Linked DNA regions of Homo sapiens. The protein of the gene in region 2 purifies or fractionates together with the protein of the main gene of each other region. This does not show direct contact. Each region holds a gene or a part of one and is shown on either strand. Other genes may lie near its edges.

Region 1 (3,816 bases), on a different chromosome or scaffold from region 2:
GCAGCCTGACTGGGGGGAGGCTTGGCTTCAACTGGCAACTTGATTTAGCCAGATTTGGGATAGGCCACCTGAGCACCTTTTCCATACACCTGGGTCCCACCCCAGGTGGAGTCAGGGCAGGGCCTGTCACCAGGGAGCTGGGAGCAGAGATGGGAGCAGTCTGAGCTGCTCCTCCGTCATCCAAGGGGCTCCTCCTCCCATTTGGGGAACGTTGTGGGCTTGTTTCAAAGCCTTGGATGTTTCTTGCAGCTAATGGCATAGGTAAAAGAAAACAAAGGGGTAACAGAAACAGGGGTGCCATGTGTTGGTGACAAAGAAAAGCAACTTGACCTTGAGGACCCTCCTTCTTCCCCCTTGGTGAAGTCCTTTCCATGACATAGGGCTCTGGGGCTGACGAAGGCCCCTCTCCACGTTTCTCAGGTCAGCCCCGAGGTCAGCCAAGAGAAATCAGAAAAACAGGCAGAAGAGAGTCTATAGAGATAAACTGGGAGGGTTTAGGAGAAAAGTTGGGGATTTGCTTGTGCTGTTGGACACAGGCTGGGAATAAAACTTTTTTTCTGGCTCATCTCTGAAAGCCAGATAGACTCTACCAGAAAACATACTGCCAGTGCTCCAGGGATCCACTTACCAGAGACTGTGATCATCCTGACTGTGGTCCTGTTGCGGCCAGTGGCTGAGTTAGTGGTGTGGCAGGCATAGGATCCGCTGTTCTTTGTAGTGATGTTGGGGATAAAGAGCTTTTGTGTGTATTGCTGGAATGTGCCATTGACAGACCAAGAATACTGTGAGGGTGGATTAGAGGCCGCATGGCAGGAGAGGTTGAGATTTACCCCTGCATGGTAATAGGTGTCTGAAGGGGAAATGGTGGGGGCATCTGGGCCATCTAGAGCAAAAGAATAAAGTCACAGGTGATGTCATCAGAGGGAAGGGGAAGCTCCTGGTCTGTGGAAGAGCCACAGTGTCCCTCTGAGCCAAGTCACAAACCTGAGCCAAGTCCCAACCAACCCCAACCAAACCCCCGCTGTTTCTACTGAGACAGAGTCCGAGACATTTACCTGTTTCTCCCATCAGAAGATGTGGACTCCAAGTCTCCCATGACAGGAGCACCCCCTCCCCTCTTATTCTTGGTCAAGGCTAGGCCTACCCATGTTTGCCTGGGGCAGAAAGTCATGACGAGCTGGGTTTCTAGGGGTGGGTGGGGAATCTGCATTTTTGGAGCTGAGAGGGACTGAGAGGCCTGGCCTCTGGCTGCGTGGATTTGGGCTGGTGGCCTGGGCCACAGAGGAACAGAAGATACTCACAGAGGACATTCAGGGTGACTGGGTCACTGAAGTTTGCACTCGCTGGGTTCTGTATTTCACATTCATAGGGTCCTACGTCATTCCTTGTGACACTGAGTAGAGTGAGGGTCCTGTTGCCATTGGACAGCTGCAGCCTGGGACTGACCGGGAGACTCTGACCATTTACCCACCACAGGTAGGTTGTGTTCTGAGTCTCAGGTTCACAGGTGAAGGCCACAGCATCCTTGTCCTCCACGGGGTTGGAGTTGTTGCTGGAGATGGAGGGCTTGGGAGTCTCCGCTGTGCAGAAAACAGAGAGAAGATTGCCCTGTGTGGCACCTTTGATTCCTCCACAGGCAAATTTCAATTAGAGTTGGCATCTCCCACCTCTCAGCCTACTCGAGTCCTTAAAAGCCCACGGTGGGTGTGTGTGTCACAAGACAGATGCACAATGATCGGGGCTCAGAGACCATGAGGCCGCCTTCTCTGTGTGGGAGAAACACAGACTTTCTCAAATGTGAATTGGGCAGCAGCGCTGGGTTGTGGACAGACCCAGGACTGGGAGTTACAGATCCTGGTGCCTCTTCTGGTCCCTCCCTGACCGGCTGCCTGCCTGGCCTACCTAGGGGTCCTCACCTGGAACATGTAGGTGCTGGGTCCCTTCCAGCTTCACAGTCCTACTTTGCCCTTCGAGGTGTGTTTTTGAGGGTTCTGTTTCCAAGAACATTCTAGAGATGGGAGATGATGGGACATGCCACTATCCTTAATTCCTGACTGGGTGTTTCAACAGAAATAACACAGGGGAGGCCGGGGCAAGCCTGGAGGTCGGTTCCGTCGTCAGGCAGTGGAGCCACAAGGTGGGGCAGTTTTTCCCAGGTGTTTCATCGTGACTTACTTGAGTCAGTGACCTCTAAAGATAGAGCAGAGTCCAAGGAATGATCTAGAAGGAGTGAAGGGGACAGGCAAGAACAGGTGGCTTTGGAGCAGAACCTTGTTTCCTTTCCTTGGTTTTTAATGTCCCTTCTTTCCCTGCGGGGGGCAGATGAGGAGCTGTGGATCCTCCCATAAATACATGTGGACATTTGCAAATGCAAACTGACGGGTGGGGAGGGGGAGCCTGAAGTGCTGGAAATTTGGCCCTCATGGACCGTGGGTGTTTGACAGTTATGAGAGAGAAATTTGGGAAGAAGTTTTGCAAATATTTTCTCCTACTGGACATTATACAGAGTGAAATAAGCCACTGACAGGACAGATACTGTAGGATTCCACTTACATGAGGTTCCTAGGGTAGTCACACTCATGGAATCACGTAGTAGAATGGTGGTTGCTATGGGCTGGGAGTGGGGGGAATGGAGAGTTGTTCATGGGTCTGCAGTTTCAGTTACACAGGATGAGGAGGTTCTAGAGATCTGCTGTACAGCTTTGTGCCTATAGCTCATATACAGTGAGTATTTCTTATGCATAAGGCTTAGGGCCAAAAGTGTTTTGAATTTCTAACTTTTATAAATTTTTGAACATTTGCAGTATACTTACTGGTTTAGCATCTCAAATCTGAAAATCCCAAATCCAAAATGCTCCAGTGAGCATTTCTTTTGAGAATCACGTTAGTGGCCAAAAAATGTGGAATTTTGGAGCATTTCAGATTTGGGATTTTTGATGGTCAATGTGTAACTCTAATTTGCATTTTAAAATTTGTCAGGAGTTTAGATATTATGTTTTGACTATAGTCAAAAACAAAATTGGAGGAAACATGAATTTTTTTCCATAAGTAGAAATTGCTATTAATTGTCCACAGATCTAAAATCAATTGGTGGAAGGAGTATTTCTCTTGATAACAAAATAAGGTTTAGGCGTCCTGTGAATTCCAGCAGGATCACATTATGCTCAAAGGAAGATCCTGAAGTTCGCTTGAAATTAGCAACTCCCAGGTAGAGGGAGGCACGTGAGTCCTGTTAAGAGGACAGAACCGGTCAGAGAGGAAGTCTTAGGTGTGTCAATTCCATAAAGGGAGGAACAATGCCAAATTAGGAGAAGCGATGTGTGTTATGTTAGTAAATTTAGAAAGCTTCCTGCCCCTAATTCCTATGCAGAGTTAGGCAAAATTGGGAGGAGCCCAAAACAGGTATGCGCAATGCTTTCTTCATTTTCTCTTGACCTCGGGAGACACAAGTAGAATTGGATTAGGTTTTTGCGAATTGGACAGAGTCTAAGTGAGACGCCAGTGGCTCATGCGTCTCCCCACCTGAAGGACCCCATCTTATCACAATGGTGCCATCATGAGGACACAGATGTGTGTGGAACAGGCAGTAAGCCCATCAGACAGCACCTGCCTGGCCATCCAGGATCTAGTCTCTAAAGAGGTTTTGCATCATTCATTCTCTCATTCATTCCCTCTCCATGAGAGAACGATCGAGTGTGTGTCACATGTTGGGCCTGTCCTGGTGCAGGGTGTGAGTGGGGAGAGAAAGCAAAGTCCTCTCTTTTGTCCTCCCATGGGAGTGACAGCAACACATCAGGAAACAGGATTTCAGGTTCA
Region 2 (3,816 bases):
CTGGAAGTTTCTCTTGATTTTGGGATGGACAACAGAAAAAAACAAAAAGCCAGTCACAGGGACCCAGAGAGAAGGAAGGGAGATGTGGGCAGGAGACAGACACAGAGCATGTGTATGGGCAAGGAAGACGCAGGGAGACTATGTGTGAGCTTCAGAACTGCAGAGACAAAACGCCACGGAGGAAGGAGAGGAATCACAGTGAGAGATCGCAGGGCCAGGGCCAGGGCAGGAAACCCAGGCCCGGACAGAGGAGCGTGTCACAGATAGAGACAAAGATTCCTGGAGAGAGACACACACACCGACTCAGGAGGAGGGAGGTGAGAGCGAGGGTGCCCCGGGGAAGCAAGGAGGGACACAAGGACAGGGAGGAGGCCTGGGGCCCCTGGGCTGCTGCCGCCCGCCTGGACCCCGTGGGGCTCACTCAGAGGGCCTGTGCCCGCTGCCCCCCCCCCGCGGTGGGCCGGGCCAGCCCGGGCGCTCAGGGGGCCGGGGGCTCCTTGGCCCCATACAGCTCGGCCAGGGTGCGGAAGAGCGGACCCCAGTCGTCCAGCGGCTCCGCGGGGCCGGGGGCGCCGCCGGCTTCGCTGCCGGAGCCCAGGGAGCTGAGGGAGCCGCAAGAGGAGCCGCGGCCCTCGTAGCCGTACACCTGCACCGAGTCGTACGGGGGTACGCCGGGGTCCTCGTCCGCCTCGCGGAGCCGCAGCGCCAGGAGCTGCGCCACGTCGGCGGGGCCGGGGGGTCTGGGCTGGCGCGACACCCGGGCCCGGGGCAACACGTCTCGGCGCGCGGGAGGGCCGGGCGCCGGGGGGGCCGCCCCGTCCGGGTTCTGCAAGGCCGTGATGTCGAAGGCCTCGGTGTCCTCCTCGCCGCCGCCCTCGTCGTCGTAGGTGATGATGTTCTCTCGGACGTCCTCCTCCTCCAGTACCATCAGTGCTTCTTGCTTCTGCCGCCGCAGGGCCACGAAGAGCACCACCAGGGCTGCGCGAGAGGCGCGCACACAGGCCCTGAGCCAGCAGGGCCGGGAGCGGGCGGCCTGTCTCCATGTGAAAGGCTGACCCATCAGGTGACAGAAGCCCTGTGCTTAGGGGCTGACATCTAGCAAACCTTGCATTGAATCCTGACTTCAGCCCTTACTCGCTATGTGACCATGGGAAGTTGCTAGACTTCTCTGAAGCCTCAATTTGCCCCTTAGATTACTTATGTGGAGAATAGGGAAAATATATTTACTTCTAAGGGTTGTTGACATAATAAAATGAAATATCACAAGTGACGTGCCCAGCACTATACTTGGCACAGAGTAGGGGCTCAGTAAACCATTGTTATGGCTTGTCATTGTCATTATGGATTGGCAGGTCACGGATAGAGGCCAGAGCTTTTCTCTTGGATGCATCAGGTGGTGGGAAAATCCAGGTATGAGGGTCGTTCAAGCCCTAAGGTGGATTTCCCTGTGTCCAGAGGCCTGGTTCTTCTCCACACCCCTGCAGGCCCAGATCGCACAGCTATGTACCACTGTGGCCTGACTCACCAAGCAGGGCACCCACACAGGTGATGATGGCAAGCAGGGCGCCGGTGCTGAGCCCAGCAGCTGAGAGGTGAGCCTCAGGCCAGCAGGATGCCACAGAGCCGTCAGGCTGGCAGCGGCACACACTAACAGTCACTGTGGCAGTGCTGCTCAGCGCCGGCTGCCCCCAGTCCCACAGTTCTATGGGAACCAAGTAGGGGGCATGGCGGGGTGGAGCAGGGCGGGAGGGCAGCAGCAGGCTGGCGGAGCCATCTGTGGGAGAGGGAAGGTGTTGAGGTATCTTCTGGGACACCTTCCAGGTAGGGTTGGTCCAGCCCATAGAGCCAGCTTCCCATAGAGCCAGCCCCCCATAGAGCCAGCCCATAGGTCCAGCCCATAGAGCCAGCTTCCCATAGAGCCAGCCCATAGGTCCAGCCCATAGAGCCAGCTTCCCATGGGGAAGGTTTACAAAGAGCCAACGAATGAGTACAAGTCCACACCCATCTTCTGTTGGGTAGAAGGCCGAGGCAGGTGGGGCAGGGGTCAGGCAGGCTGGGCTAGGGGTGGAGGAGGAGGAGAAGGGGACAGAGGCAGGTATGGACATGGCTGTAGGAGGCCACCTACCTCGGTTGTCCTGGACAGTAAAGTTGGCATCAGGGCCCAGAGGACCTTGAAAGGAGACATGGCTACTGTTGCCAACTTCATCTCTGTCCAGGGCCCGGATGACCTGAATCAGCTGGGAGGAAGAAGAGAGAGGCCTTGTATGGAGTGGGCTGCTGGAGGCCTGGACGTCCCAACCCCTCTGCCTCAGTTGCTCACCTGGCCAGGAGCTGCAGAGTCACACACAAAAGTATCGTAGGGCTCAGCCAGCTGGGGAGCATTGTCATTCTCATCCAGGGTCTGGATGGCCACTTGCACGCGCGAGGCCTGTGCAGAACTGTCTGAAGGCAGAACACCAAAACATACACGCCACACACACACCACACAGTTTACACGTAACATATGTGGTGCATGGGCATGGATGCCACATGAAGCATATAGCATGCACAAGAAACACATGAAATATGCATGTAATGTACAGGTAGAAAACAATGTTGCAGAATGAATGGAACAATACCAAGTGCATACAATATTCATGTAGTACCCAAGATATGTGCGATACACAATAGACATTCAACAGGAATGCCGCACCCATGATACACATATACAATAACCCACATGCAGGGCACATGCAGCATAAATGAAAGACAGAGGGAAGGTGCATACGAGTTGCATGCAGACAACAGCCATGAATATACAAAACACATTCATACCATATATCCAATGTACACTCAACATTTAAAACAAATGCAATGTACATGAAGCAAATGTTTGATATGCATAGTGAATGTGGTGCCACATCCCCCGACAACACCCAGTGCCCATAGAATGCATTTTCATGCATAGAGGCCATGCACAGCACCAGTGGGGTGGACAGACACATATACACACCACACACACACACACACACACACACACACACACACACACATCCCATCAGAGGTCTGGGAGGCTGTAGTACAGCAGTGAGCATCACTTATCTTGGGTAGAAAGGTGCTGCATGATCTACAGGGTGCAGAGCCCAGGCCAGCCTGGGTACCACAGCCAGACACAGGCCCCATCTTTACCCATCCCTTCATCAGGTGACTCCCTACCACTACCCTACCTTGCTTCTCACTGCCAGTGCCTTCCAAGAGAGAATGCAAAGTGTGTCTCCCTGTCACCTCTCTTAGGCCAGGTCTCCCAATTCCTTTAGTCTTTCCCCTAGGCAGAGGGATAGCTGACTAGCCTTGGGGAAAGGGGCTGAGGATGCAGCATGGGCAGGGGAGGCTGAGTGGATCGCCTGGCTAAAAGGATTGGGATACCCCAGAGACAGGATGGGGAGGAGGTCTACTTCTTCCCTGCGGTAAGGGCCCAGCACTGCTAGGTGATGTCTGGGTGCGGGTAGGAGCAGGATTTGGCAGGAGAATGAGAAGACAGTGACTAGAAACGCACACACACACAAAGCTATGTATATATAAGCAGCCAAAAACATACTGTGTGTACACGGACACACACGGCCATCCACACAGACATCCATGCACTAACAGATAACACGTGCACTGCCAGGTAGTATCTGTGCATATCTACTATGCACACAGTTGCATGTATAGAAACATAAACCTAGACACATAGCATTAAACACATTTGAGAGGCAGTACGGTGGGGATAACAGCTCAGACTCTGCACACTGACTGGATCTCACAGCTCCACCACTTAATCTCTATGTGACCTTG

Evidence for each region.
Region 1: the proteins of CDH24 (region 2) and CEACAM8 purify together in Homo sapiens (co-immunoprecipitation; one large-scale study listed by IntAct). This does not show direct contact.

Annotation. Positions count from the first base shown.
Region 1 is NC_000019.10:42,588,156-42,591,971, forward strand, and holds part of CEACAM8 (cell adhesion molecule CEACAM8 precursor), read right to left. Parts: intron 1,581-3,816; coding exon 1,302-1,580; intron 884-1,301; coding exon 629-883; intron 250-628; coding exon of another isoform or gene 1-249. UniProt on the Homo sapiens protein: Cell surface glycoprotein that plays a role in cell adhesion in a calcium-independent manner. Mediates heterophilic cell adhesion with other carcinoembryonic antigen-related cell adhesion molecules, such as CEACAM6.
Region 2 is NC_000014.9:23,047,502-23,051,317, forward strand, and holds part of CDH24 (cadherin-24), read right to left. Parts: exon of another isoform or gene 3,809-3,816; intron 2,443-3,808; coding exon 2,321-2,442; intron 2,238-2,320; coding exon 2,126-2,237; intron 1,775-2,125; coding exon 1,526-1,774; intron 979-1,525; coding exon 479-978; 3' UTR 1-478. UniProt on the Homo sapiens protein: Cadherins are calcium-dependent cell adhesion proteins. They preferentially interact with themselves in a homophilic manner in connecting cells; cadherins may thus contribute to the sorting of heterogeneous cell types.